2 separate regions of the Homo sapiens genome follow, and region 1 is linked to region 2. Evidence: fine-mapped expression QTL. A gene starts in region 2. The other region holds a variant in brackets. All regions are shown on one strand. Distances are from middle to middle. Region 1 overlaps MAVS (mitochondrial antiviral signaling protein). Region 2 holds the start of MAVS (mitochondrial antiviral signaling protein).

Region 1 (15,104 bases), 29 kb after region 2:
GTGCTTGGGAATGCCTCTCCTGTTGCATTGGTCCCTGAAGGCCTCAGGGCAGGTATGTGGTGTGTGGGCGACTCCACAAGACCTGCCTCCCATCCTGGCAGCCCAGCCTGAGACCGTTGCATTGAGGCAGGCAGGAGCGGCAGGGTGGCTGCTCTCCAGGAGCCCAACTGCCTTGAGTTCCTGCCCCACTGGGCCCCCTCCCCTGCTGGGCAATCCTGGGAAGGTCTGGAGGTTCCTGTGGACCTCAGGGAAGCCAGGGGCAGCTGTCAGGCCTGAGGAAGACCTGTGGAGCTCCTCTCCAGCCTCCTCTTTCCCTCCCCTCTGGTCTCCATTCTCTTCAGCTCCCTACATGGGCTGGGGAGGAGACACCTGGTGGGCAGAGCTCAGGCAGAGGTTTGGATTTCAGCTCCCTCACTTCCGGGGCTGTGTGGCTTTGGCAGATGTCAGACTTCTGGTCTTGCTTCTCCACGTGGACAGTGAGTATCTGGCTCATTCTTCACTGGGTTCTTCTGAGATTGAACCTACAGGTGTTTGCCAAGTGCCTGGCCCAGAGCAAGTGGCCACTGCTTCTCCCATCTCTCTCCTGCCCAACCTGGTAGAGCTGAGGGCATGAGAGGCAGAGTGCACAGTGGTCAAGGGTGCAGCTCTGCAGCACAGGCAGCCTAGGCCTGCGTCCCAACCTGCCTCTCACCAGCTCTGTGACCTTGGGCAAGGGATTTATCTGTCTGTCCCTTAGTTTTCTCACCTGTAAAAGGAGGATAAGTATATATATATATTTCCCAGTGTTGTGAAGATTAAAGGAGTTTATCGATGTAGGTCTTAGGATGAGTCCTGGCATTTACCAAGGGTTGGATATATGTTATTATCACTATTAAGTGTTGAGGGTCCAGGCATGCTGGGCAACAGGGACCCCATCTCTACAAAAAAGTTTAAAAAATTAGCCAGGCGTGGTGGTGCACCTGTCGTCTTAGCTACTTGGGAGGCTGAGGTGGGAGGATCACTTGAGCCCAGAAGCTTGAAGCTGCAGTGAGCTAGGATCGTGCCACTGCACTCCAACCTGGGTGAGAGAGCGAGACCCTGTCTCAAGAAAAAGAAAAATGCAGAGAAACAGGAGTCTTGGCTACTCCTTTAGAGGCAGACTCAGACCCTCCTGCCTCACAGCTTTATCTTTGTATTTGCCCCTTACTTTATCTTGTGCCTTGAGAAATTGCTGGGGAGAGAGGTATGTCCACTGGGCAGCTGTACAGGATGGAGGATATAGGGCGTTTCCACTCCCAGCAGCCAGGTTCCCTCACCCCAAGCTCACCCACTGTTGGGGAGATTATCTACAATAACACCAGAAACACATTGGGGTGGATTGGGGGTATCCTTATGGGTTCTTTTCAGGGAACCATTGCTGGACAAGGCACAGGAGCCACCTCCATTTCTGAGCTCTGCAAGGGACAAGAACTAGAGCCATCAGGGGCTGGGCTCACTGTGGCCCCACCCCAAGCCGTCAGCCTCCAGGGATCTACACCCTGCCTTGGCTGCTACAGCTTTTTCACTCCACTGCCCTAGGGGAGTTCAGCAACCTAATGATCTCTATCTCTGAACATCTCTTCATCCCATGCTCCAAGTCCAGCAACCTGCACCCTGGAACCAGGAGTGGACCCTACCCGAGCTGTCTGTATTAATCCCCATCCCCCACCACCAATCTTAAAAAGCCCTCTGTCCCCCTACCCTAAACCCCAGTTAGGTACCCATGCTGGGCAGGTCAGTTAACAATTTATGCACAGGTACTAGTTTTATTGTATTACCGTTCCAGGGTAGCTTTGAAAAAAGTATCTCAAAAAGGCAACATGGGCCGAGCGCAGTGGCTCACGCCTGTAATCCCAGCACTTTGGGAGGCCAAGGTGGGCAGATCGCCTGAGGTCTGGAGTTCAAGACCAGCCTGGCCAACAGGGTGAAACCCCGTCTCTACAAAAATAAGAAAATTAGCCAGGTGTAGTGGCAGACGTCTGTAATCCCAGCTATTCAGGAGGCTGAGGCACGAGAATTCCATGAACCCAGGATGCGGAGGTTGCAGTGAGCCGAGATTGTGCCACTGCGCTCCAGCCTGGGCGACAGAGTGGTATTCTGTTTCAAAAAAAAAAAAAAAGGCAGTATGTAGCCCCGAAGACTGTTGCCCAAGTGGTAGAATGTTAGCACACTACCAGCCTAGGTAAAAAATACAAAAAGTAACTGGGCATGGCGGCGCCCATCTATAGTCCCAGCTACATGGGAGGCTGAGGTGGGAAGATAAGTCACTTGAGCCCGCCAGGAGGCGGAGGTTGTAGTGAGCTGAGATCGCACCACTGCACTCCAGCCTGGGTGACCGAGTGATACTCTGTCTCAAAGAAAAAAAATTATAATTTTAGCACAGTAACCAGCCATGATGGGAGATACCCTGGGTAAGGCATGTAGAAAGGGTTGAGGGACCTTCCCAGTCCCCTAGCCCCGCCTCCCATCCTCCCATCTTTTTCTTTTTTCTTTTTTTTAGAGAATCACCCAGCCTGGAGCGAAGTGGTGCAATCATAACTCACTGTATCCTTAAACTCCCGGGCTTAAGCGATCCTCCTGCCTCAGCCTTCTGAGTAACTAGGACTTCAGGTACCTGTCACCATGCCTGGCTAATTAAATTTTTTTTTCTTTTTTTTTTTTGAGATGGAGTCTTGCTCTGTCACCCAGGCTGGAGTGCAGTGGCGCGATCTCAGCTCACTGCGACCTCCACCTCCTGGGTTCAGGCCATTCTCCCGCCTCAGCCTCCAGAGTAGCTGGGACTACAGGCGCCTGCCACCACGCCTGGCTAATTTTTTTGCACTTTTAGTAGAGACGGGGTTTCACTGTGTTAGCCAGGATGGTCTCGATCTCCTGACCTTGTGATCCGCCCGCCTCGGCCTCCCAAAGTGCTGGGATTACAGGCGTGAGCCACCGCGCCCAGCCAAATTAAATTTTTTATAGAGATGAGGTCATGCTGTTATGTTGCCCAGGTTGGCCTCATGAGATCTTGCCTTAGCCTCCCAAAGTGCTGGGATTACAGATGTGAGACACTGCACCCAAACCCCACCACTTTTTTTTTTCCTTTTTCTTTTTTTGAGACAGTCTTACTCCGTTGCCCAGGCTGGAGTGTAGTGGCATGATCTCAGCTCACTGCAACCTCCGCCTCCCGGGTTCAAGCAATTCTCCTGCCTCAGCCTCCCGAGTAGCTGGGATTACAGAGGCCTGCCACCAC[A/G]CCCGACTAATTTTCGTATTTTTAGTAGAGACGGGGTTTCTCCATGTTGGCCAGGCTGTTCTTGAACTCCTGACCTCAAGTGCTCCACCTGCGTTGGCTTCCCAAAGTGCTGGGATACAGGAGTGAGCCACTGCGCCTGGCTGATCCCAGCACTTTTCAAATGATGCCGCTCAAAGCCGTGACTTGGCCTACTTTGAACAGCAAACTTGTTGCTGCTGTTGTCAACCTGAAGGCCTCTCAAATGCCAGCTTCAAGCAGGGTGTGAATTGGCCAGTGTCAGATCTCAGGAGTCCTGTGTTGAGAGTGTGGCTTTCAGCTGCGGGGAGCTGCACTTGGTGGGGAAAGCCAGGCAGGTCACCCTCACAGCCAGATAATGTGGAGGTCAGAACCCAAGGAAGGGAGTGAGACCTCCACTCCCAGTGGGGGACCTGGCCACCCATCCTTGGGGACCTGAGAAAGCGTACTTCACCTTGGGGTGAAGGCTGGGTGGGGCCAGAGGGACCAGTGCCCTCCTCAGTGCTTAGGGGCAGAGCCACCTGCAGCAATGGTATCTGCATATTAGCCCCTCTCCACCTTCTTTCTCCCGCTGAATCATTTCCCTCAAAGCCCAAGAGCTGTCACTGCTTCTTTCTCCCTGGGAAGAATGCGTGGACTCTGCCTGGTGATAGACTGAAGCCAGAACAGTGCCACACCCTCGCCTTAATTCCTTGCTAGGTGTTCTCAGATTTATGAGACTTCTTAGTCAAATATGAGGGAGGTTGGATGTGGTGGCTTGTGCCTGTAATCCCAGCATTTTGGGAAGCCGAGGTGGGAGGATCCCTTGAAGCCAGGAGTTTGAGACAAGCCTGGGCAACAAAGCAAGACCCTATCTCTAAAAAAAAAAAAAAAAAAAAAAAAAAAAAAAAAAAAAAAAAATCTAGGAGATGCTCTTTACCCTGCCTGGCCTCAAACTATTAATAGCTTCCTTTGAGCAACATTATTTATTATGAACTTTCAAACACAAAAAAGTAGAGAGAGTAGAATAACAAATCCCCATGAGCCCATCACCCAACTTCAGTAATTATCAATTCATGGCCATCTTGTTCACCCCTGCCTGCTTCCCTGCTTCCCCTCATTCTGCAGAGGTTCTTTTCTTTTGAGACAGAGTGTTGCTCTGTTGCCCAGGCTGGAGTGCAGTGGTGCAACTTCGGCTCACTGCAACCTCCGCCTCCCAGGTTCAAGTGATTCTCCTGCTTCAGCCTCTCAAGTAGCTGGGATTACAGATGCCCGCCACCACACCTGGCTAATTTTCGTATTTTTGTTAGAGATGGGGTTTCACCATGTTGGCCAGGCTGGTCTCGAACTCCTGACCTCAAGTGATCCGCCCGCCTTGGCCTCCCAAAATGCTGGGATTACAGGTGTGAACCACGGTGCCTGGCCACTGTACAGGTTATTTATAGAAGTTGGAGAGTGAAGGGTTGAGAAAGCCAAGGGGCAGATGCGGGTCTGGAGGATTTTGTGCCTAAGGCCCTCTCTTTGCTCCCAGACAGCATGAAGTAACAATGAGGCATCCACCTCTTGGTTTTGTGGCCTCTGTGGATGACGTCTCTCACCTTGAACCAGTTCAGAGTTGGAGTAGCGCAGGATCCTGTCTTCAGAGGAGGGGCCGAAGCGGGTTCCTCTGTTGTCAAGCTCTTTGGAGGTGCCTGGCTGCTACTACTGTCCCAGAGAGGTGATGATGAATGATGGGTGTGTCCAGTGGCAGTTTGCCCCACTGAGGCAGGGGCTTCCACTAGGCCCTGACAGAGCCCTTCCAGCAGGCAGAAATCCCTGTGCTAGGCAAGATTCAAACTCCGTAGCATGTCTCCTGCTCCCATCTCTTAGGAATGGAGTCCTTCAGGCCTTGAGTCCCACATTTTCCATGATGCTCCATTAAGCAGCTGATAGCACCCCCACCTCCAGGGAAAGTGAGTTCAGAGTCCTTGGTCTAATGCATCTGTGTTGAAATTGAGGCCTTCCCCTGTGTTCACCTTTCTGCTCTTTTTCTTTTAGCCCAAGGCTATGAAGGCCTCATTCGGTGCTGGGCATGGTCACTCCTAGCATTCCTCACTCTGTTGCTAACAGCAACAGCAATAATAATAAGGGTTACAACTTACTCCATACCTTACTGTCTGCCAGGCATTAAGCTAAGTGCTTTACATATATTAAGTCATTTAATCCTCATAATGACCCTATGAAAGAGATACCATCTCAACCCAATTGACAGCTGGTTTGCAAGATTAGGAGGGATGAAGGACCCAGGGGACAATGCGAGGGAAAACTCTGACCCCGGGGCCCCAGGCTGGATGTTCTTTATGCCTGTGAACCACAGCTTATCACATGTCTGGAGTTAGGGACCCCACTTAAAGTGAGATTTTGGCTGGAGGTGGTGGATCATACCTATAATCCCAGCACTTTGGGAGACCAAGGCAGAAGGACTGCTTGAGGCCAGGAGTTCAAAACCAGTGTAGGTAACAGCTAGACCCTATCTCTACAAAAAATTTAAAAATTAGCTGGGTGTGGTGGTATGTGCCTCAAGTTCCAGCTACTCAGGAGGCTGAGGTGGGAGGATCACTTGAGCACAGGAGTTTGAAGTTACAGTGAGCTATGATGGCACCACTGCACTTCAGCCTAGGCAACAGAGGGAGACCCTGTCTTTAAAGTACATAGAGGTTTTTCACACCAACACATCTCTGCCCAGTGTGCCAACATCTGCCACCTGCTATAATAGTACTATAACACTCAATATGTAATTAATGTAGTCTCAGGGATGTTATGACAATATGATTACAACTATCACGTGTGTGCCCAGCCAGGCTCAATGCCCCAGGCTGGGCGAGGTGGGGCAGGGGACACAGCCTAAAATGCCAGGCCTCAGGAAGCCATTTGGTTTAGCAGACATTGTTTATTAAAGGAGTTACCTATGCCAGATCGAAGGCCTAAGATGATTAAGACACTATGAGTGCCTTCAAGTGGTTGGGGACGTTCATGATTGTGGTACAGACAAATAGGCTTTCACATCATTCTTTTATGTAATCATACAACAGATATTTGCACCTACATGTGCAGAGCACTGTGATAGGCCTCAGTGACACAGAATAATACGGCAAAGACCCCACCCGATGAGCCCCCTCCCACCACCCACCAGTACAGTAGGGGGTGGTTTAATGGAGTGTTCCTGGAATATGAAGTGGGGGCAGGCATTAGGGGTGGCAAAGGGACAAGTGTTTATCTGATCAGTTATGTACTGTTTATAATAAGTAAATCAGCAGAGGGGGAATAATACTTAGAACCTATAGAGAGTAAATCTGACAAGATGAAATGCTGATGAAAATATGGAGGAAATGAAACTCTCATGGGTTTTGCAGGGAATCTAAGTCAGTGCTGTGTTGTGAATGTAGGTGTACCCTTTGAATTCATATGTTGAATCCTAACCCCCAAAGCAATGGCATTAAGAGGTGGGGCCTTTGGGGCTGGGTATGGTGGCTCATGACTGTAATCCCAGCACTTTGGGATGCTGGCAGGGGGCAGATCACTTGAAGCCAGGAGTCTGAGATCAGCCTGGCCAACATGGTGAAACCCCATCTGTACTAAAAATACAAAAATTAGCCAGGTGTGATGGCGTACATCTGTAATTTCAGCCACTCGGGAGGCTGAGACAGGAGAATAGCTTGAACCCAGTAGGTGGAGATTTCAGTGAGCCGAGATCGTGCCACTGCACTCCAGCCTGGGTGACAGAGCGAGACTCCATCTCAAAAAAATAATAAAGATGTGGGGCCTGTGGGAGGTGGTTAGGTCATGAGGGTGGAGATCATGAATGGGGTTAGCACCTTATAAAACAGGCTTGAGGGAGCCCTTCTGTCCCTTCTACCATGTGTGGATGCAGTGAGAAGGCACCGTATCTCTGAAGCAGAGAGCCCGCCCTGGACACTGGATCTGCTGGCACCTTGATCTTGGACTTCCCAGCCTCTAGAACTGTGAGAAATAATTTTTTGTTGTTTACAAATTACCCAGGCTAAGGTGTTTCATTGTAACCTGAATGGACCAAGCTGGTGTGACCCTGTTGGAAAACTGGCAGTATCTACCAAAAGCCGAACATACGTATAAACTGATCCAGCAGTTCCACTCCTGGGTATGTACACCACAGAAAGCTATGTCCACCGAGACATTGGCAAGAATGTTTCTAACCACACGCTGACTGTAGCCCCAAACCTGAAACAACCCAAATGTCCATCCACCAACCCAAATGTCCATCCACAGTTGAAGCTACAGTGAAGTCACAGGGTCGAATACTACTGCACAGCAACGAATATGAATGAAAATATCGCTATGCACAGCAACATGGATAAATTTCACAGACATGAGGTCAAGCAAAAGAGGTCAGAGTCCTCATCATCAAGAGAGAATTCATTGTATGATTCTCTTCCTACAAAAAGTACAGAAATAAGCAAAACTGATCCATGGTGTTAGAAGCCAGGGGAACAGTTAACAGGGGAGGGATACTGGGGAGGGGCATCCTGGAGTGCTGGTCTACCTCATCTGGGTGTTGATTTCACGAGTATTGTCAGTTTGTTTCCAGACTCCCTGTTGGAGATGTGGAAATAAAAACCACCTAAACAAGAGCAGAGAGGCCATTTGGTCAAAGTTTGCAAAGGAGTCAGCCATGATTGCTTGTATTTGGCAGGGGTCAAAGGCAGGCAGGGACTGTGAAATGTTATAGTGGAAAAAAAGGGAAGGCTCTGGGTGTGCTGTGATTGGAGATTGTTGGCATGGGGACAGAGCGGACTAACTGGAGGGGCATCTTTGGTTGGTTGGGGGGGTATATTTGGCTTTCTCTGGTTGGTCTGGAGTTGGAAGAGGGGGTGTGGTGGCTGGGGATTGGGAAGAAGCTGGCAGCCACTAAGTTCAGACTGTTCTGGGTCCGATTGCTGCTGAGGCTGTGGTTTGGCTTCCTTGGCTTCCCAGGCTGGTCATGGGTTTCTGGCCAGAGTCTATTGTCATATGTGGCCTGGCCATTGTCCAGTTGTATGTTCAGTCTCTTGGAAGGAAGGGTATTGACTCTGAGAGGGGCCACCATCGCTGGAATGGGGGACACACAGTACTTCCTCCAGCTGCCTACACCCCCCTAGGGTCAGTGGCGCCTGCCTGTGAGGGTGAGCCCAATGGCTAGAGGGCTCTGCTCCAAGTCATTGCTTACTACACCCACAAACATTCTTCGTTCTTTAAGGCCTAACTTAAAGCCCAGATCCTACAGGAAACCTTGATTAGACCCCTCTCTTTATTAAGCTTCCTAAGATCAAACCCTGCTTTTGTGTAAATGCTGACCTCCTTGCCTACATTTTAAAAACCTAGAGCTGGGCATGATGGCCCCAGCCTGTAATCCCAGTGATTCAGGAGACTGAGGTGGGAGGATTGCTAGAAGCCAGGAGTTCGAGACCAGCCTGGGTAACATAGCTAGACCACATCTCTTAAAATAAAATAGTTAATTTAGCCAGGCATGATGATATATGCCTGTAGTCCCAACTACTTGGAAGGCTGAGGTGTGAGGATCTTTGAGCCCGGGAGGTCGAGGCTACAGTAAGCTATGATCTCACCACTGTACTCCAGCCTGGGTGACAGAGCGAGACCCAGACTCAAAAAATAAAAATAAAAACCCTGAATATCTTCCTTCTACTTCTTCAGTGCTGTTTTTATTTAAAAAAAAAAAAAACCAGCCAAAACCACAACTTTTTACTGAAGTGTAATGTAAATGCTGTAAAAGGCAGTGAAAGGCACAAGGGAGGTGGAGGGGTAGGAAGGGTGGAAGTGGCGGGAGGAAGTGGCAGGGCAGGCAAAATGAAGGGAAGCCCTGGGTTCTTGTCCTGCATCCGCAGCCAGCTCCCACTTTCCTCACCCTCCAGGACCTGTAAACTGTGAGGCTGGACCAGTTATGTCAAATCTGTCCTCCCCCAGAGCTCAGTCCCTCTGCCCTTGGGTGTCCTTGGCACAAGGCAGGCTAGGCTGCACCAGCTTCCTCCATCTCCGTCCTGCCTCCCCCATCCCCAGGTGCCATTCCCACACCATCTGAATCACTGATTTCCTCGCAATCAGACGCTATCTTCCAGTTAATCACTTCGCTTGTATTTAACATAAGAAAGAAAAACCCTTTCATTATCACATACAGCTGGAAATCGGCTTCTTGCAGGAGGCGTATCCAAAGGAATTGGAGAAGAGATAAACTGGTAATTGGTGAAAGAATTACTTTAATTTTTTTTCCTACTTGCTGTCATGATGATGTCCTTAGAATTGTGAGCCCGTGGACACTTCTGTACAATAAATCTGCTATTATTACTTCTAGAACTACAGTTATAATGGTCTACAATGGCCAGATGCCTGCTTGTAATGAGAAGCTACTGCAGTGAAGATCAACAGAGTCAGGGGGCTTGTCTGTGACCTCTCCTCCTTTTCCCTCCTGCCTTCTCCCTGGGGATGGGTGGGTTTCTACTTAAAGACAAGCTCCCAGCTCTCAGACAGAGAATGTATGAGAGCAAAACAGAAGTCACAGTCCTTTGGTACTTAATCTTGAAAGTGACATCCCAGCAGTTTTTTTTTTTTTTTTTTTTTTTTAAGACAAGGGCATGCTCTATCGCCCAGGTTGGAGTAGAGTGGAGTAGAATGTCTCACTGCAGCCTCAAACTCCTGGGCTCAAGCAATCCTCCCACCTCAGCCTCCTGAGTTGCTGGGACCAGAGGCACACGCTACCATGCCTGGCTAACTTTCATGATTTTTAGTAGAGATGCGGTCTCACTGTGTTGCCTATGTTAGTCTCAGACTGCTGGGCTCAAGTGATCCTCCTGGCTCAGCCTCCCAAAGTGCTAGGATTACAGGCAGGAGCCTCTGCATCCACTCCCATCACTTCTGTAAATTGCAGTCAAGGGGCAATTTACCCAGAAGTAGGAACCACTGGAAGCACCATTATAGCAGCTGCCTCTTCAGGAGGGGAATTTGATTCTGTCCTACAAAATGACATATGCATGTGTTTTTTGACCCAGCAATTCCATTTCTAGTAGTCTAAGCCAAAGATAACATTGGCAAAAATAAAGATATATGTCCAAGGCTAGTCATTATAGCCCACTGTGTAAATAGCAAAAGACTGGAAATAACTCAGACAATGTCCATCTACAGAACATTGGCAATAAACCAAGGTATATCTACATTGGAGTGCTATGCAGCTGTGAATAGAAATGAGTATCTCTATACTGCTATGGAGTGAACTCCATGATGTTTTGCTAAGAGGAAAAAAAAAGTGGAAAACTGTATATATAATATAGAATCTTTGGGCTGGGTGGTGGCTCATGCCTGTAATCCCAGCACTTTGGGAGGCCGGGGCAGGTGGATTATGTCAGGAGATCGACACCATCCTGGCCAACATGGGGAAACCCCGTCTCTACTAAAAATACAAAAAAATTAGCTGGCCATGGTGGTACGCGCCTGTAGTCCCAGCTACTCGGGAGGCTGAGGCAGGAGAATCGCTTGAACCTGGGAGGCAGAGGTTGCAGTGAGTCACGATCACAGCACTTCCAAAAAAAAAAAAAAAAAGACCTGACTCCAGTGGACTGAAACTCATCAAATAGGCTTTTAAAATCCATGAGTTGGCCAGGCGCGGTGGCTCACGCCTGTAATCCCAGTGCTTTGGGAGGCCAAGGCAGGTGGATCACGAGGTCAGGAGTTTGAGACCAGCCTGGCCAACATAGTGAAACCCCGTCTCTACTAAAAAAAAAAATACAGTCCGGGTGCGGTGGCTCATGCCTGTAATCCCAGCACTTTAGGAGGCTGAGGTGGGCGGATCACCAGGTCAGGAGATTGAGACCATCCTGGCTAACACGGTGAAACCCCGACTCTACTAAAAAAAAAAAAAAAAAAAAAAAAAAAATTAGCCAGGCATAGTGGCAGGTAGCCTGTAGTCCCAGCTACTCGGGAGGCTGAGGCAGGAGAATGGCGTGAACCTGGGAGGCGGAGCTTGCAGTGAGCCGACATAGCGTCACTGCACTCCAGCCTGGGCGACAGAGACTCTGCCTCAAAAAAACAAAACAAAACAAAACAAAAATAAGCTAGACGTGGTGGCACGCGCCTGTAGTCCCAGCTACTCAGGGGGCTGAGGAAGGAGAATCGCTTGAACCCGGGAGGTGGAGGTTGTGGCGAGCCGAGATCACGCCAGTGCACACCAGCCCCGGCAACAGTGTGAGACTCCGTCTCAAAAAAAAAAAAAAAAAAAAAAAAAACACCAGGCATGGTGGCGCACGCCTGTAATCCCAGCACTTTGAGAAGCCAAAGTGGGTGGATTCTATGAGCTCAGGAGTTCGAGACCACCCTGGGCAACATGGTGAAACCTCCTCTCTGCTAAAATAGAAAAAATTAGCTGGGCGTGGTGGCACTTGCCTGTAGTCCCAGTTACTCAGGAGGCTGAGGCAGGAGAATCGCTTGAACCCAGAAGGCGGAGGTTGCAGTGAGCCGAGATCGCACCACTGCACTCCAGCCTGGGCAACAGAGTGAGACCGTCTCAAAAAAAAAAAAAAAAAGCCACCAGTTCATGATAATACTAAAAAGAATTCATTGTTGACCTCTAGAGGATGCCCCAGGAAACCAACTCATTCTGAAAACTGGTCAGTAAAGGGAAAGAATTGATCCTGCCTTTTCTATTTGAGTAGTTCCAGCTCCTCTGGAGGCTGAGGTTGAGGTACTTCAGGATAACAAAGAGTTGATGAGGGAAGATTCTTTATAGAAATATTCCAGTTAGGCTGGGTGCGGTGGCTCACACCTATAATCCCAGCACTTTGGGAGGCCAGGCAGGTGGATCACTTGAGGTCAGGATTTCGAGACTAGACTGGCCAACATGTTGAAACCCCATCTCTACTAAAAATACAAAAGAAAAGTAGCTGGGTGTCGTGGTGCACAGCCGTAATCCCAGCTACTCGGGAAGCCGGGGCAGGAGAATCGCTTGAACCTGGGAGGAGGAAGTTGCGGTGAGCTGAGGTCGTGTCACTGCACTCCAGCCTGGGTGACAGAGTGAGACTCTGTCACACACACACACACACACACACACACACACACACACACAAATTCCAGTTAACCAAGCATAGAAGAAACTACCTGATTAGAAAATTACGGTAGGGGCTGTAGCCCCTAACGTAAGTAGTTAATGTTATGAATTTCTCTTCTCTTGATGAGATGAATAAAAAGTAAATAGTGAGACATGGTGGCTCACACCTGTAATGTTTTCACTTATAAGTGGGAACCACTTTGGGAGGCCAAGGTGGGAGGATCGCTTGAGGCCAGGAGTTTGAGACCAGCCTGGGCAACATAGTGAGACCCTTGTCTCTAAAAAAAAAAAAAAAAAAAAAATTAGCTGGGCGTGGTGGTGCACACCTGTACCTCCAGGTACTTGGGAGGCTGAAGTGGGAGAATTGCTTGAACCCAGGGGTTTGAGGCTGCAGTAAGCTGTGACTGCACCACTGCACTCTTGCTTGGGTGACAGGGTGAGACCCCGTCTCAAAAACAAAACAAAAATAGAAAAATAATGTTTAAAAAGGTAAATAGCACCTGTGAAGAATTCTTTTAAAGAAATCAAACCTGGGCCAGGTGCGGTGGCTCATGCCTGTAATCCCAGCACTTTGGGAGGCTGAGGCAGGCGGATCACCTGAGGTCGGGAGTTCGAGATCAGCCTGGCCAACATGGAGAAACCCATCTGTAATAAAAATACAAAATTAGCCAGGTGTGGTGGTGCATGCCTGTAATCTCAGCTACTCAGGAGGCTGAGGCAGAAGAATCGCTTGAACCTGGGAGGCGGAAGTTGTGGTGAGCTGAGATTGTGCCATTGTACTTCGGCCTGAGCAACAAGAGTGAAACTCCACCTCAAAAAAAAAAAAAAAAGGCAAAGCAATCAAATATAATATGTTAATATGTTGATCTCATTTGGAAACTAAATTGATTTTTTAAAAAATTTACTTAAGAGACTGGGTCTTGGTATGTTGCCTAGGCTGGACTCAAACTCCTTGTGTCAATCAATCCTCTCGCCTCAGCCTCCACTACAGGCTTTAAGAAATTAGCTCTAAGTCCTTATGGTAGGAAAGCTGTAACTCAGGTTACTGGATCATGGAGAGGCCAGGATTAGGTGACCTGAAAAATGTGGGCTTGGTCTCCATCATGATTGTTTAATTAAGACTCTTGGTTCCAGCTGGGCACGGTGGCTCACGCCTGTAATCTCAGCACTTTGGGAGGCCGAGGCGGGTGGATCACAAGGTCAGGAGATCGAGACCATCCTGGCTAACACGGTGAAACCCTGTCTCTACTAAAAACAAACAAACAAACAAAAATTAGCTGGGCATGGTGGCGGGTGCCTGTAGTCCCAGCTACTCAGGAGGCTGAGGCAGGAGAATGGCATGAACCCAGGAGGCGGAGCTTGTATTGAGCCGAGATTGTGCCACTGCACTCCAGTTTGGGTGAAAGAGCAAGACTCCGTCTCAAAAAAAAAAAAAAAGACTCTTGGTTCCAAGTAACAGAAGACAATGTAAGCTAGATTAAAATATGGGGCGGGAGACTTAATAAACTTATTTTAATGTTGCGGGGGGAGACATATGGAACACAGACAGGAATGTATTCAGCCTAGGGAATGGATAGAAACAGGCAGGACTGGGAGAGCTGGCAAAGTGCTTTTTCTGTTCTGTTCATCTGTTCACTCTTGGAGCTCTGTGCAAACCTACTTTTTTTTTTTTTTGAGATGCAGTTTTGCACTGTCACCCAGGCTGGAGTGCAGCGGTGCGATCTCGGCTCATTTCAACCTTGGCCTCCTGGGTTCAGGCAATTCTCCTGCCTCAGCCTCCCGAGTAGCTCCCTCCACCATACCCAGCTAATTTTTGTATTTTTAGTAGAGATGGGGTTTTGCCATGTTGGCCAGGCTGGTTTCGAACTCCTGACCTCAGGTGATCTGTCTGCCTCGGCTTCCCAAAGTGCTGGGATTACAGGCGTGAGCCACTGCGCCCGGCCGCAAACCAATTTTTTCTGCTTCTTTGACCCCACGAGGAATGTGGCATCACACTTTGAGAAGTAAGTCTCTATTCCAAGGTGGTGGGGTTTAGGAGGTACAAACATGGCTGTTGGGGCCTAATCTATGATCTATAGGAGGAATGGTTGTAAGTTGGGTAGATGTCAAATATGTCCACTATGAAGATGTAGTTTTTTTTTTGAGACAGAATCTCGCTCTATCGCCCAGGCTGGAGTGCAGTAGCGTGATCTCGGCTCACTGCAACCTCCGTCTCCCAGGTTCAAGCAATTCTCTGCCTCAGCCTCCTGAGTAGCTGGGATTACAGGTGCCCCGCCGCCATGCCCGGCTAATTTTTTTTCGTATTTTTAGTAGAGACAGGGTTTCACCAAGTTGGCCAGGCTGGTCTTGAACTCCTGACCTTGTGATCCACCCACCTTGGCCTACCAATGTGCTGGGATTACAGACGTGAGCCACCACACCCGGACTGTTTTTTTTTTTGAAGATGGAGTCTCGCTCTGTCACCCAGGCTGAGTGTAGCGGCATGATCTCAGCTCAATGCAACCTCTGCCCAAGATATAGGTATTTTAAGGGATCCTAAACTTGGTATTGTCACTGCAATCATTCCTTAGCAAATGGTGTGTGTGCACTCACACTCTGAAAGGTACTGGGGGATGTAAAGATGCAAAGTCTTAATCTGATAGCTCTCATATCTAGTTGGGATTATACAACGTGTACACCAAGAATCTTAGGACCAGGAAGTACGAGAAATGCCACTGAGAGTGACATAAGGCTGGGCAAGGTGGCTCACACCATAAT
Region 2 (16,360 bases):
TTTTTTTGAGATGAGGTCTCACTCTGTTGCCCAGGCTGGGGTGCAATGGCATGATCTCGCCTCACTGCAACCTCTGCCTCCCAGGCTCAGGCAATTTTCCCACCTCGGCCCCTCAGGCTTCCGAGTAGCTGGGACCACCGGCATGTGCCACCAAGCCTGGCTAATTTTCTTTTCTTTTTCTTTCTTTTTTCTTTTTTTTTTTTGTGAGACGGAGTTTCGCTTTTGTTGCCCAGGCTGGAGTGCAATGGCGCTATCTCGGCTCACCGCAATCTCCGCCTCTCGGGTTCAAGCGATTCTTCTGCCTCAGCCTCCTGAGTAGCTGGAATTACAGGCATTGCCTGACTAATTTTGTATTTTTAGTAGAGATGGGGTTTCTCCATGTTGGTCAGGCTGGTCTCGAACTCCCGACCTCAGGTTATCCGCCCACCTTGGCCTCCCAAAGTGCTGGGATTACAGGTGTGAGCCACCATGCCTGGCCCTAGCTAATTTTCTTTTTGTACTTTTGGTAGAGACAGGGTTTTGCCATGTTGCCCAGGCTGGTCTCAAACTTCTAAGCTCAAGTAATCTGCCTGCCTCGGCCTCCCAAAGTGCTGGGATTACAGGGGTGAGTCTCTGCACCCAGCCAAAAAGAGCTTTTTTCTTTTCTTTTCTTTTTTTGGAGAGATGGGATCTCTCTCTTTTGCCCAGGCTGGAACTCTTCAGCTCAAGCAATCCTCCGGCCTCATCCTCCTGTGTAGCTGGGGCTACATTCCTTTTCATTTTTTTTAATTAAAAAATTGTGGGGTTTTTTTTGGCCAGGCACAATGGCTCACGCCTGTAATCCCAGCATTTTGGGAGGCTGAGGCGGGTGGATCACCTGAGGTCAGGAGTTGGAGACCAGCCTGGCCAACATGGTGAAACACTGTCTCTACTAAAAATACAAAAATTAGCCAGGCGTGGTGGTGCATGCCTGTAATCCCAGCTACTAGGGAGGCTGAGGCAGGAGAATTGCTTGAACTCAGGATGCGGAGGTTGCAGTGAGCCGAAATTGCGCCACCGCACTCCAGCCTGGGCGACAAGAGCAAGACTCGATCCTAAAAAAAAAGAAAATTGTTGTTTTTTTCTTTTTTATTGTAAAATATACCTAACATTAAAAAGACCATTTAACCATTTTTAAGTGTAGAATCTGGTGGCATTAAGCACATTCACAATGTTATGTCCATTATTTTTATTTTATTTTTTATTTTTGAGACAAAGTCTCGCTCTTGTCACGCGGGCTGGAGTGCAATGGCGCAATCTTGGCTCACTGCAACCTCCACCTCCTGGGTTCAAGTGATTCTCCTGCCTCAGTCTCCCGAGTAGCTGGGATTATAGGCGCCTGCCATCACGCCTGGCTAATTTTTTTATTTTTAGTGGAGATGGAGTTTCACCATATTAGCCAGGCTGGTCTCGAACCCCTGACCTCAGGTGATCCACCCGCCTCAGCCTCCCAAAGTGCTGGGATTACAGGTGTGAGCCACCGTGCCCGGCCAATGTTGTGTCCATTTCTAAAATTTTTTTTTATCGTTTGAAACAGAAACTCCGCAGCCATCAGGCACTCACTGCCCACACTTCCTTCTTTGCTCTCTGACCACTCGCGCCCCATTTCATTCCTGTTCATTTCTCATTTCCTTCTTATACTGACCAGTTCAGGTCTTCCCTCTCCCATCAGCTTGGTTCCAGGCCTACCTTTTGATATCATAGCTGTGCCCACTAAAAAAAGAGAAAGAAAAATGCAGACCTGAAGCTCCACCGTTAGCATCTCAAAGCATGTTTTCAACTCCGCTTTGAAATTACAGACTCAAGGAACACGATGAAACTCGTGGGCAAGACCTCCTTCCCCACTGATGTCTGTCTGTTCTGAAGGGGGCCACAGAAAGACATATCCTTCTGGAGATGAATTATGCATTTTCCTTAAGAGGCACATAGAGCTTTACCAACTTTTTCAACAACGTTCCCCCGCTACATAGTCTTTCTTTTGTGTTATTTAGTTTACCATTTCTTTTTTCCATCTTGTTATAACCTCCACGAGTTGTGTCTCTTTTGTTTTCTACATTATACCCAACGGCTAGCACATAACAGGCACCCAATATATACTGAACGAACTAAGGAATGAATGAAGGAATGAATGAATAGGTGGCTTATAGGAAACCCCTGGGGCCAGGGACTCTGCAACATCACCATGTAACTTTTTCTTTGTGCTGAGAAGCAGAGAGAAACAATAGAAGATATCTCTTAATCTCTCAAGGATGCTACTCCCAGGACTGCTTGCAATTTCCGAGGAGATAAGCCACAAGTTACAGAAAGGAAGCAGCTGTGTAGGGCCTGCAAGTTTCCTGCTGCAAGTCACCCTATGTTCAGAAGTTACCCTGGCTGGGCCAGGCATGGTGGCTCACGCCTGTAATCCCAGCACTCTGGGGAGGCTGAGGCAGGTGGATTGCTTGAGTCCAGGAGTTTGAGACCAGCCTGGGCAACATGGAGAAACCCCATCTATACAAAAAATTAGCTGGGTGTGGTGGCATGAGCCTGTAGTCCCAGCTACTTGGGAGGCTGAGGTGGAAGAATCACCTGAGCCCAGGGGGTCAAGGCTGTAGTAAGCCAAGATCACGCCACTGCACTCCAGCCTGGGCAACCAGAGTGAGACCCTGTCTCGAAAAAAAAAAAAAAAAAAAGAAGGAAGGAAGGAGAAAGAGAAAGAGAGAAAAGAAAAAAAAGAAAAAGTTACTCTGACTTTCTACACTGCTTTTAATGAATAGAAATTTATCTTTCCCCTCAGTGTTCTGGAAGAGTTTACAAATATGATTGAGGGGCTGGGCACCGTGGCTCACGCCTGTAATCCCAACACTTTCGGAGGCTAAGGCAGGCAGATCACCTGAGGTCAGGAGTTCGAGACCAGCCTGGCCAACATGGTGAAACCCCGTTTCTACTAAAAATAAAAAATTAGCTGGGTGTAGTGGCGCACACCTGTAATCCCAGCTAATTGGGAGGCTGAAACACAAGAATTACTTGAACCCAGGAGGCGGAGGTTGCAGTGAGCCACAGTCGTCCCACTGCACTCCAGTCGCTGCACTCTCGCCAAAAACAAAAACAAATAAATATGATTGAGTATTACCATAGGCTCTGGTTCCTGCCCTGAGGGAAGGTGAGTTAAAAAGCAGTCAGAGGCCGGGCATGGTGACTCACGCCTGTAATCCCAGCACTTTGGGAGGCTAAGGCAGGAGGATAGCCTGAGGTCAGGAGTTTCAGACCAGCCTGGCCAACATGGTGAAACCCTGTCTCTCCTAAAAATACAAAATTGGCCGGATGTGGTGGTGCACACCTGTAATCCCAGCTACTCAGAGCCTGAGGCAGGAAAATTGCTTGAACCCAGGAAGTGGAGGTTGGAGGTGGAGGTTGCAGTTAGATGAGATCGTGCCATTGCACTTCAGCCTGGGCTAAAAGAGTCTCAAAAAAAAAAAAGCAGTCAAAGCAGTAAGAGGTCTAATGTGCTTCAAAACTGTAGTTTCAGCACTTTGGGAATCCAAAGTGGGAGGACTGCTGGAGCCCAGGAGTTTGGGACCAGCCTGTGTAACATAGCAAGACCCTGTCTCTACAAAAAATAAATTTAAAAAGAGCCAGTGGTGGCCGGGCGCGGTGGCTCATGCCTGTAATCCCAGTACTTTGGGAGGCCGAGGCGGGCGGATCACGAGGTCAGGAGATCGAGACCATCCTGGCTAACACGGTGAAACCCATCTCTACTAAAAATACAAAAAATTAGCCGGGCATAGTGGCAGGTGCCTGTAGTCCCAGCTACTCGGGAGGCTGAGGCAGGAGAATGGCATAAACCTGGGAGGCAGAGCATGCAGTGAGCCAAGATAGCGCCACTGCACTCCAGCCTGGGTGACAGAGCGAGACGCCGCCTCAAAAAAAAAAAAAAAAAGGCCAGTGGTATGTGCTTGTCGTCCTAGCTACTTGTGAGGCTGAGGCGGGAGGATCAGTAGCTCAGAAGGAACTCCAGAACTGAGTTCTGAACAAGTGAAGCTTCAGATGCAGTGATGCGATCATGGCTCACTGCAACCTCCACCTCGACCTCCTGGGCTCAATTGATCCTCCCGCCTCAGCCTCCCAGGTAGCCGAGACTAGAGGAGCGTGCCACCATGCCTGGCTAATTTTTTGTACTTTTCATAGAGATAGGGTTTTGCCATGTTGCCCAGGGTGGTCTCTGATTCCTGGGCTCAAGCAATTCTCCTGCTTCAATCTGCCAAAATGCTGGGATTACAGGTGTGAGCATCATGCCAGGCCTTGGGAACTTTTGGGGAAATGGAAATATTCTAGATGTTGATCTGGATGCTGGTGTCACACCCATTTACTTGGATAAAAATGAATCAAGTCCTCACGCCTGTAATCCCAGCACTTTGGGGGTGGAGGCGGGTGGATCACCTGAGGTCAGGAGTTTGAGACCAGCCTGGCTAACATGGTGAAACCCTGTCTCTACTAAAAAAAAAAAAAAAAAAAACCCACAAAAATTAGCCGGGCATGGTGGTGGGTGCCTGTAATCCCAGCTACTCGAGACGCTGTGGTAGGAGAATCCTTTGAACCCAGGAGGCAGAGGTTGCAGTGAGCTGAGATCACGCCACTGCACTCCAGCCTGGCGACAGAGCAAGACTCCATCTCAAAAAAAAAAAAAAAAAAAAAAAAAGGGAGAGCCGGGTGCGGTGGCTCACGCCTGTAATCCCAGCACTTTGTGAGGCCAAGGCAGGTGGATCACAAGGTCAGGAGATCGAGACCATCCTGGCCAACATGGTGAAACCCCGTCTCTACTAAAAATACAAAAATTAGCTGGGTGTGGTGGAGCATGCCTGTAATCCCAGCTACTCAGGAGGCTGGGGCAGGAGAATCGCTTGAACCAGGGAGTTGGAGGTTGCAGTGAGCCAAGATCATGCCACTGTACTCCAGCCTGGTGACAGAGTGAGACTCCGTCTCAAAAAAAAAAAAAAAAAAAAGAGTCAAGTCATACACTTAAGTTTGATATATTTCACTGAATGTAAACTGTGCTTCAAGAAACAAAACCCTTCCATGCACAAAACACCTAGGGTGACATCTGTTTCCTGCACTGAATATCTGATTTTGGGAGAGGAGCCCTAGGACAAGAGACAGCAAGAGGGGCTGAGAGCAAGCAGGGCACCAGAAGCTGGGAGCGTGGAGGGACGTGACCAGGGAGAAGTCCCCTGTGTTGGGGGAGGCCTGTGAATTTTAGGAACTCTGATATCTAACTCTCAAGGCATGTCCTTGCCAAGCAGCAATACAATTAAGTGTGCCTAATCTTATGGCTCCCACACTTTCAATTGTTCTTCCTGAAACAATTAGATATGAAGCCGCAAGAGCCCAGGCAGGGCTGGATTGATTCTTGAACTAATCAACATTTATGCCCTCTTGGCTAAACTAGGCAGAGTTGGTTTTATTACAGTTCAGATGTGATTAAGCACACTGTATTGTGTCAGCGGCAGGTGACGAGCCACACAGTGTCCTGAGGCCTGATGAAAGGGCTATGCCAACCACAGTCCCAGAGGAGGAGCTGGCTGTAGCAGCGACTGACCCAGGAGCTGAAGTGAGCCAAGCCCCCTCCTCCTGAGACCCCTGAGAGGTAAGGCAGGCTCATGCCAGACCCTATTACGTCCCACATCATGGCTAGAACCAGAACCATCTTACATGGCTGGTCAAGGCAAGGATAACCCCAGGAAGTCAGAGGACTTGGAGACTCTGTATTGTAGGAAAAAAAAAAAATACTAGAAAAGACACTGGAGCGTCACCAGCAGTCACCCCTGGATGGTGGCATTATTATTATTAGTAGTATTTTTTTTGAGATGGAGTCACTCTGTCGCCCAGGCTGGAGTGCAGTGGCATGATCTTGGCTCACTGTAACCTCCGTTTCCTGGGTTCAGGCAATTCTCCTGCCTTAGTCTCCTGAGTAGCTGGGATTACAGATGTGTGCCACCATGACTGGCTAATTTTTGTAGATGGTGGCATTATGAATATGGATTTTGGTTTTCATCATCAAATATTTCTGTTTTCCCCACATTAGCTGTAAACAGTATATATTTTTGGTAAATTAAGTTGAAAGAATGAAAAAATTAAAATAGTATAAAGAATATCTGTTTAAGTGCAGTGGAGTGTGCCTGTGGTCCTAGCTACTTCGGAGGCTTAGATGGAAGGATTGCTTGAGCCCAGGAGTTCAAGACCAACCAGAGCAATGTAGCAAGACTGTGTCTGTTTTATTTTAAAAATAAATAAATAAAACATAAAGAATAACTGTTTAAAATACTATTCAAAATGAAGTCATAAAGGAGGGGATTATGTTTTTTAGTCATAGTTCCCTCAAGGGCTCAGACCGGAGAACATAACCGAGTTTGGAGCCCTCTGGCACTGTCTTTGCGCCTGACCTCTGCTCTCCAGGGGGTGACGTGAGCTGGTGGGTGCTGAGTCATCATGGGTGGGTCACAGCCTCCCTCGGAGGCCTGGAGATGGGCCTGTCTGTGCTGAACTTTACTGGGCAGGGGGCAGCTCCAAGGCCCTCACTGGGGGCAGCCTAGAGCATAGATCACTCTCTGGACTTGCTCTTCTCCTAATAAATGGACAGTGATCAATGAATTACACCCATGAAATAGGGTGGGATGCAATAAGAAATAAAAGATAATATAAATAGCCAGATAGGGTCAAAAGATGATTTATTTTACTTTATATTTTTGAAATAATTTCAGATTTACAACATAGTTGCAAAAATAATGCAAATGTTTACATCTTACATAACCCAGTACAATGATCCTAACACTGACAGATTGTTGTTGTTGTTGTTAATTTGAGACAGAGTTTCACTGTTGTTGCCCAAGCTGGAGTGCAATGGTGCGATCTCGGCTCACTGCCGCCTCTGCCTCCCGGGTTCAAGCGATTCTCCTACCTCAGCCTCCTGAGTAGCTGGGATTGCAGGTGCCCACCACCATGCCTGGCTGATTTTTGTATTTTTAGTAGAGACAGGGTTTCACCATGTTGTCCAGGCTGGTTTCAAACTCCTGACCTCAGGTGATCCACCCACCTCGGCGTCCCAAAGTGCTGGAATTAGAGGCGTGAGCCACCATGCCCAGCTAGATTATTGTTAACTGATCCAAAAGCCTTATTTGGATTTCACCTGAAGTCCTTTTTCTGTTTCAGGATCCAACCCAGGTTCCCATATTGCATTCAGTTGTCATGTCACTTTGGTGTCCTTTTCTCTGGAGCAGTCTCTCAGTCTCCTTGTTTTTCCTGACCTTGAAATTTTTGAAGAGTTATTCTGCAGAGCAGTGCTATCCAATAGAACTTTCAGTGATGATAGAAATGCTCTGTTTGGGCCTGACGCTGTGGCTCACACCTGTAATCCCAGAACTTTGGGAGGCTGAGGCAGGCAGATCACCTGAGGTCGGGAGTTTGAGACCAACCTGGCCAAGGTGGAGAAACCCCGTGTCTACTAAAAATGCAAAATTAGCTGGGCATGGTGGTGCATGCCTATAATCCCAGCTACTCGGGAGGCTGAGGCAGGAGAATCGCTTGAACCTGGGAGGCAGAGGTTGTGGTGAGCCGAGATCACGCCATTGTACTCCAACCTCAACAACAAGAGTGAAACTCTGTCTCAAAACAAAACAAACAAAAAAAATAGAAATGCTCTGTGTCACCGAGTATGAAGCCATTAGCTACATGAAAATAGCATTTGAAATGTGGCTCATGGGCCAGGTGCAGTGGCTCACGCCTGTAATCCCAGCACTTTGGGAGGCCAAGGTGGGTGGATCACTTGAGGTCAGGAGTTTGAGACCTGCCTGGCCCATATGGTGAAACCTCGTCTCTACTAAAAATACAAAAATTGGCCGGGCGTGGTGACATGCGCCTGTAGTCCCAGCTACTCGTGAGGCTGAGGCAGGAGAATCACTTGAACCCGGGAGGCGGAGGTTGCAGTGAGCCGAGATTGGGCCACTGCACTCCAGCCTGGGTGAAAGAGTGAGATTCTGTTTCAAAAAAAAAAAAAAAAAAAAAAAAGAGAAATGTGGCTCGTGGGTCTCAGGAACTGGCTTCTAAGTATTATTTAATTTTAATTAAAATAGCTACATGTGGCTAGTAGCCATTGTATTGGATAGGACAGCTGTCAAATGTCTCTCGTTTTGGGTTTGCTTACTGTTTCCCTATGATTAGTTTCAGATCATGAGCTTTTGATAGGAATACCATAAGCATGTTGTTGTGTTCTTCTTTGTCTAAATCTTTATAAAAGCTGTTGATAGGTGGCAGGGAACCACCTAGTCAGGCAGTGGGATTGTTTGAATGCTCTTTGAGGTCCAGCAAAGACAGGAGTGATAGCTGCACTTGGAAGCCCGCTCCTACACTTTCAATGTTCTTCCTGAAAGAATTAGATATGAAGCTGCTAGAGCTGCTCCGGTGGGGAGCAGGCAGGATTGATTCTTGAACTAATCAACATTTATGCCCTCTTGGCTAAACTAGGCAGAGCTGGTTTTATTACAGTTCAGGTGTGATTAAGCATACTTTGTAAATGCTGAAGGTTGTGAAATATTCACAGGGATATAAAGTACAGTAATAAAACCTCACTTGAGGCTGGGCGTAGTGGCTCACGCCTGTAATCCCAGCACTTTGGGAGGCCGAGGTGGGAGGATCACCTGAGGTCAGGAGTTTGAGACCAGCCTGGCCAACATGGTGAAACTCCGTCTCTACTAAAAATACAAAAATTAGCCGGGCGCAGTGGCATGTGCCTGTAATCTCAGCTACTTGGGAGGCTGAGGCAGGAGAATTGCTTGAACCCAGGAGGTGGAGGTTGCAGTGAGCCGAGATCGCGCCATTGTACTCCAGCCTGGGCGACAGAGCATGACTCTGTCTCAAAAAAAAAAAAAAAAAAAAAGAATAGAAGACCCTGTGCCTGGAAGATCGTAGGTGCTCAGTAAGTGCTGGCCTCTGCCCCAGAAGGGGAAGGGCGAGGCAGATGGCAGGAACTGCGGGAGGTACCTGTCCCAGGCCCTTGGGCGTAAGAGGCCTCTCCCACGCAGCACCCAACCCATACCCAGCCTGCCCGCCAGCCAACCTTGGCGTCCCTGCCTTGCGCCTACCTACCCAGCAGTCCCCCGCCCGCTCCCACTCCCACAGGCCCAGCGTGCACGTCTCCAGGATAGGCATCCTTGCCCCTGTGACTTCAGCGGCACCCAACGTTTATTGGGCACTAACTGTATGCCAGGCCATGGGGGTGCCGGAGAGAACGACACGAAGACCCTCACCCCTCAAAGTTCCCAGGGGGAGGAGGGGCTGCTTCACTTGGGAAGCGTGGGGATGGAATTCTCAGCCCCCCGATGACTCCGAGGCCGGCCACCTGCCTGGTTTCTGGCCGGACACCGGACTTCCCCTGGAAGTTGCTCGAGACTGCGCGCCCCCAGCAAAAAATCAGGTCGGTTCTCCGAGCCCAGTCTAGCGCTTCCCGACCCGCAAACCAAGGCCCAGTGACCGTCCCCGCTGCGCAGCCGCCTGCGTCGCCAGCCAACCACGCGCGGCCGAGTAGCCCCGCCCCTCCACATGGCCAATGGCCGCGCGCTCTGCCCGCCCCGCCTCCTCGCTGCGGGAAGGGTCCTGGGCCCCGGGCGGCGGTCGCCAGGTCTCAGGGCCGGGGGTACCCGAGGTAAGATCGCTTCCCGGGCGTTGGGTCCTTTCGGCTCAGCACGCACGGACGCCTTTAGGGAAGGTGGCTGCAGCGGCAGGACGGAGTCCGCCGGGACGCCCTGGGTCTGGGGTGCGCGGGGGGCCCAGGAGGGGACAGGACGCGCGGGGATCCGGAAGAGCGGGCCCTGTCGCAAGAGTTTCGGGAACACTGAGGGCTCCAGGCGCCGCATCCAGCATCCGGGGAAAAGGGGGTAGGTGGCGCTGGGCGTCTGCTCAGGCTGGGGGAAAGGTAGGGCCAGAAGGGGACGGGCAGCGGCCGCTGACCTCCTCCTGCCGCCCGCGGGCCCAGGGTGACGCTAAGGTGGGGCCGAGCCTCGACCGGGTGCGCCTAGAGGTCGAGTGCTGCCGCCCTCCGCTGGGTCTGGACAGTTCTCGGCGGCGACACCAGCTCAAAACGGCCTCCCCGCCCTCCGCGGACCTGGGTCGCGCCCAGGAATCCGATCCAAGGCTGTGAGGCCTGTCCCTTTGGGAAGGGTGGGTGTTTATTTCCGGGATGCACTCAGAGCCTCTGGACAGTCAGGTCGGAAACTTTGCTGTATTGGGAACACTCTGTCACCTACTTCCTTCTCAGTTGGGAAGGAAGTGCCAAGAAAACATGAAACAAACCAAAAACACGAAAAAGGGATTCTCTGTATGGAAGCCGTGAAGCCTCAAAAATATCTAGGAGGACAGCCAGCGACCTGGGACCTGTGGCAGCCATGTGAAAGCAGGGTTAATGTCTGGACTAAATGTTGCTTCCACCTAAGTGCACCCTCAGCCTCCCTCCCGCCAAGTGACCTTGGGTCCTCTTTGGGCTTGAAGGCAGGTGGCTGTGTGGGTCTCGCTGCAGGGGTCTCTGTGCCCTGCAAGGTGTATGACCAGTTGCAGTGAGGCAGCAGGTTTTGGGTTCAAATCCTGTGCTAGCCTCTGGCCAGCTGTGCACCTTGGCAACACTTTCCCTGTCACGGGATTGGGGAAGGATTAACTGAAAGAACCTTAGGATGTGCCTGTCTACAATGGGCCCTCCATAAATGTGAACAAATGTGGGCTTCCTTTCCTTTTGTTTGGGCCACATCATCCCTTCCCCTCCATCTGTGGCTGAAGCTGGAATGCAGAAGAGTGCCTCATCTGACTGCCTTCTGGTACCTGGCTGATGCCATGAGAAAGGAAGGAGAAAGGGGTCTTTTTTTTTTTGAAATGGAGTCTCACTCTCTTGCCCAGGCTGGAGCGCAGTGGTCCAATCTTGGCTCACTGCAACCTCTGCCTCCTGGGTCTAGAGATTCTCCTGCCTCAGCCTCCTGAGTAGCTGGGACTACAGGTGTGTGCCACCATGCCTGGCTAATTTTTGCATTTTTAGTAGAGACGGGGTTTCACCATGTTGGCCAGGCTGGTCTCAAACTCCTGACCTCAAGTGATCTGCCTGCCTCGGCCTCCCAAAGTGCTGGGATTCCAGGCGTGAGCCACCGCGCCCGGCCGAGAAAGGGATCTATTAACTCCCATAGAGTTGTTCTTTGCTAATTTCTTGAAGGCTCAGAGGACCCCCGCCTCACCTTCCTGATTCTCCTGACCTGTCATTAGTACTTGCCCCACGAGGAATGTAGCAGGGCCTGCTGGCTGGCAAAGCAACTCATGCATGTGAGGCTCTGAGGCCAGTGACAGGACTGCTTCCCCTGTGAGGAAGGTCTGGTGGCCCAACAGCTTTTAGGTGCTGTCTGCTCTACAGCACTGCCTCCTGAGAGAGGTCTCATGCCTGCCTGATGCCCACTTGGTCCTCTCCTGCCTCCTTCCCTCCCTGACAACCCACTTGGAATCCAATAGCATCTCAAACTTCACTTGTTCCGAACTGAGTTCTGGAGTCCCTTCTGAGCCACTGCTCCTCCCCTGGCTTCTCTGGCCTGGTAAAAGGGCACCTTCCATCCACCCAGTGCCCAAGGAGTCATGCTTCTTTTCTCTCCCTTATCTCCTACACCCTCAAAACACCAGGAATCTGGCTGCCTCCTGCCATCTCTGTGGTTCCCATCCTGACCATAGTCATCCTGTCTCCTGGGCTGTGGCCTCCTTACTGGTCTCCCAGTTTTCATCCTGGCCCCTCCAAAGTCCTCACAACCACCAGAGAAGTCTTTAATGTAAATCAGATCCTCTTCTTTCCCTGCCGGAACCTTCCAGTGGTTCCCTGTTTCACTCCAACTAAAACCCAGAGTCCTTTCCTACAGCACTCTACATGAGTGGCCCCTGCCACCTCCTTGACCTTGACAATCTCTGCCCCTTTCCCTAGCTTGCTTGCTTTTTTTTTTTTTTTTCCTATGATGGAGTTTTGATCTTGTCACCCAGGCTGGAGTGCAATGGGATGATTTCAGCTCACTGCAACCTCTGCCTCCTGGGTTCAAGCGATTCTCCTGCCTCAGCCTCCCGAGTAGCTGGGATTACAGGCGCCCACCACCATGCTAATTTTTGTATTTTTAGTAGAGAAAGGGTTTCACCATGTTGGCGAGGCTGGTCTCAACCTCCTGAGCTCAGGTGATCCACCCGCCTAGGCCTCCCAAAGTGCTGGGATTATAGGCGTGAGTCACGCAGCCAGCCATCCCTAGCTTTCTTGACCTAGACCACACTGACCTGCTTTCTATTCTTCAAACATGCCAAGCTCATTCTTGTTTTAGGACTTTTGCATTTACCATGCTCTCTGCCTAAAACACCAATCTTCTCAGAGCCTGAGAACAGCTCAGCTGTGTTCTGCACGCTAGTTCAGAAAGGCTTCTTTGACCCCCTAGTTCAAGTAGCATGCCTGTCTCCAGGGGCTCTGTCTCATTACCTGCTTTACTTTCTTTAGAGCCTTTATTGCTATCTGGAACTCTTATTTGGGTATTAATTTACTGATCTGTTATTTGTCCCACCCCATTAGAATATAAATTGGATGTGGCATAGACCTTGTCTCTTTTATTCCCTGCAGCACTCCCTGATGGGGGCGGCAGAAAAGTAACGAGCAAATACATCTATAACTGCAAATTGTGGTAACTCCTACATAAACAACTGGCAGCAATTGCTTATATTTGAGGCACTTAAAAATTTTTAAGCTGGCTGGGCGCGGTGGCTCATGCCTGTAATCCCAGCACTTTGGGAGGCCGAGGCGGGCAGATCACGAGGTCAGGAGATCGAGACCATCCTGGCTAACACGGTGAAACCTGTCTCTACTAAAAATACAAAAAATTAGCCGAGCGTGGTAGCAGGCGCCTGTAGTCCCAGCTACTTGGGAGGCTGAGGCAGGAGAATGGTGTGAACCCGGGAGGCGGAGCTTGCAGTGAGCCGAGATTGCACCACTGCACTCCAGCCTGGGTGAAGGAGCGAGACTGTCTCAAAAAAAAAAAAAAAAAAAAAAAAAGAAATTTTTTTAAGCTGCTGGGCGCGGTGGCTCACGCCTGTAAATCTCAGCACTTTGGGAGGCCGAGGTGAGCGGATCACCTGAGGTCGGGAGTTCGAGACCGGAACATGGTGAAACCCTGTCTCTACTAAAAATACAAAATTAGCGGGGCGTGGTGGCTCATGCCTGTAATCCCAGCTACTTGGGAGGCTGAGGCAGGAGAATCGCTTGAACCCAGGAGGCAGAGGTTGCAGTGAGCCGAGATCGCGCCATTGTACTCCAGCCTGGGCAAAAAGAGTGAACTCCATTTCAAAAAAAAAAAAAAAGGCCAGGCGCAGTGGCTCACGCCTGTAATCCCAGCACTTTGGGAGGCCGAGGCAGGCGGATCACGAGTTCAGGAGATTGAGACCATCCTGGCTAACACGGTGAAACCCTATCTCTACTAAAAATACAAAAAATTAGCCGGGTGTGGTGGCGGGCGCCTGTGGTCCCAGCTACTCGGGAGGCTGAGGCAGGAGAATGGTGTGAACCCAGGAGGTGGAGCTTGCAGTGAGCCGAGATTGCACCACAGCACTCCAGCTTTGGTGACAGAGCGAAACTCCGTCTCAAAAAAAAAAAAAAAAAAAATTTAAGCTTAGAGGCCGGCCACAGTGGCTCAGCACTGTGCAGGCCAAGGCAAGAGGATCACTTGAGGTCAAGAGTTCGAGACCAGCCTGGCCAACATGGTGAAACCCTGTCTCTACTAAAAAATACAAAAATTGGCCAGGCGCGTTGGCTGGCGCCTGTAATCCTAGCAACTTGGGAGACCAAGGCAGGCAGATCACCTGGGGTCAGGAGTTCAGGACCGGCCTGGCCAACATTAAAACATATAAAACCCCGTCTCTACTAAAAATATAAAAATTATCCAGGCATGGTGGCGTGTACCCGTAATCCCAGCTACTCGGGAGGCTGAGGTAGGAGAATTGCTTAAACCCGAGAAGCAGAGGTTGCAGTGAACCGAGATTACGCCACTGCACTCCAGCCTGGGCAACAGAGCGAGACTCTTTCTCAAAAACAACAACAACAACAAACAAACAAATTAGCCAGGCATGATGGTGGGCACGTGTAATCCCAGCTACTCGGGAGGCTGAGGCAGGAGAATTGCTTGAATGTGGGAGATGGAGGCTGCAGTGAGCCGAGATCACACCACTGCACTCCAGCCTGGGCGACAGGGAGACTCTGTCTCAAAAAAAAAAAAAAAAAAAAAAGTTTATAAGGCTGAATTACCGTACTGTCAAAACAAGCTGCTATCTGAGCCGTTTTAAGGGTGAGGAAGTCTGGAAACTGATAACTTGCCCAGGACACACAGTGAGTTCAAGGCATGGAACTCAGTCTCCTATCTTAAGAATGTATGTGGGCCGGGCATGGTGGCTCACGCCTGTAATCCCAGCGCTTTGGGAGGCCAAGGCAGGCAGATCATCTGAGGTCAGGAGTTCAAGACCAGCCTGACCAACATGGAGAAACCCTGTCTCTACTAAAAATACAAAATTAACCAGGTGTGGTGGTGCATGTCTGTAATTCCAGCTACTCAGGAGGCTGAGGCAGAAGAATCACTTGAACCCGGAAGGCAGAGGTTGCGATGAGCCGAGATTGTGCCATTGTACTCCAGCCTGGGCAACAAGAGTCTGGAACTCTGTCTCAAAAAAGAAAAAAAGAATGTATGTGTAGCAGGCTTTTTTTTTTTTTTTTTCCCCCGAGACGGAATCTGGCTCTGTCGCCCAGGCTGGAGTGCAGTGGCGCAATCTTGGCTCACTGCAAGCTCCGCCTCCCAGGTTCACGCCATTCTCCTGCCTCAGCCTCCCGAGTAGCTGGGACTACAGGCACCCGCCAGTACGCCGGGCTAATTTTTTGTATTTTTAGTAGAGACGGGGTTTCACCGTGTTAGCCAGGATGGTCTTGATCTCCTGACCTCGTGATCCACCCGCCTCGGCCTCCCAAAGTGCTGGGATTACAGGCGTGAGCCACCGTGCCCGGCCTATGTGTAGCAGGCTTTAATGGTGGGCCTGCAGCCATGTCATGGAAAGAAGCTGACCTGAAGATCTCAGTTCTTTCTTCTTCTACTAACTAGCAAGCATACCTCAGTTTCTTCTTTAAAGCGGGATGATCCGATTATTATCATGTTGGGGTTCACTTTTTATTTTTTCAGTGTGTCCCAAAGCAGCAGCACGTTTAGGTATAGCCCTCTTGCTATCAGCTTGAGGGCCTTAGAGCCAGGAAGGGAGCCAGGACATTTATAGGCACAGAAACTAGGGTCACATACAGATCCCCCCACCGCATGTGCTAGGGGTACATGCAGACCTTCCCAGTGCTGACCAACCTGCAGAGAAGAAATGGGCCCTAGGTATTCTGGATCTGATTCTTTTTGGTCTTCAATTATTTTTATTTTTATTTTTTTAGAGACAGGGTCTCGCTGTGTTGCCCAGGCTGGCCTCGAACAGCTGGGCTCAAGCGATCCTCCTGCCCTAGCTTCTTGAGTAGCTGGTGGTCATCAATTCATTTTTAGCAAATTCTGCAGAATTTTTTTTTTTTTTTTTTTTTTTGAGACGGAGTCTCACTCTGCCGCCCAGGCTGGAGTGCAGTGGCGTGATCTCGGCTCACTACAACCTCCGCCTCTTGGGTTCAAGCAATTCTCTGTCTCAGCTTCCTGAATAGCTGGGACTGCAGGCGCCCGCCACCATGCTTGGCTAATTTTTTTGTATTTTCAGTAGAGACGGGGTTTCACCATCTTGGCCAAGTTGGTATTGAACTCCTGACCTCGTGATCCATCCGCCTCGGCCTCCCAACGTGCTGGGGTTACAGGCGTGAGCCACCGCGCCCGGGTTCTGCAGGAATTTTGGAGAGACTCAGGCAGTAATAAAATAGGATGTTTACAGAAATTAAAGATGGCGGCCGGGCGCGGTGGCTCACGCCTGTAATCCCAGCACTTTGGGAGGCCGAGGCGGGCGCATCACGAGGTCAGTAAATCGAGACCATCCTGGCTAACCCCGTGAAACCCCGTCTCTACTAAAATACAAAAAAATTAGCCGGGCGTGGTGGCGGGCGCCTGTCGTCCCAGCTACTCAGGAGGCTGAGGCAGGAGAATGGCGTGAACCCGAGAGGCGGAGCTTGCAGTGAGCCGAGATCGCGCCACCGCACTCCAGCCTGGGCGACAGAGAAAGACTCCGTCTCAAAAAAAAAAAAAAGAAATTAAAGGTGGCTGGACACATTGGCTGGTGCTTGTCATCCGAGCTACTTGACAGGCGGAGGCAGGGGGAT

The links.
Region 1: its variant is fine-mapped to the expression of MAVS in whole blood (TOPMed, PIP above 0.99).

What each region holds. Positions count from the first base shown.
Region 1 is chr20:3,866,512-3,881,615 of GRCh38, forward strand. MAVS (mitochondrial antiviral signaling protein) reads left to right here. Exons shown (of 7, transcript NM_020746.5): 7 at 1-9,607. Among named protein-coding and RNA genes, the nearest start is that of PANK2-AS1, 15 kb to the right of the region's middle. RefSeq lists an enhancer at 1-2. The variant A/G (reference allele first, on the strand shown) is at 3,251.
Region 2 is chr20:3,837,213-3,853,572 of GRCh38, forward strand. It overlaps MAVS (mitochondrial antiviral signaling protein), which reads left to right and starts at 9,622. Exons shown (of 7, transcript NM_020746.5): 1 at 9,622-9,691. RefSeq lists enhancers at 6,405-6,549, 7,538-7,677, 13,632-14,133, a cis regulatory region at 6,472-6,482 and silencers at 9,039-9,088, 9,519-9,898.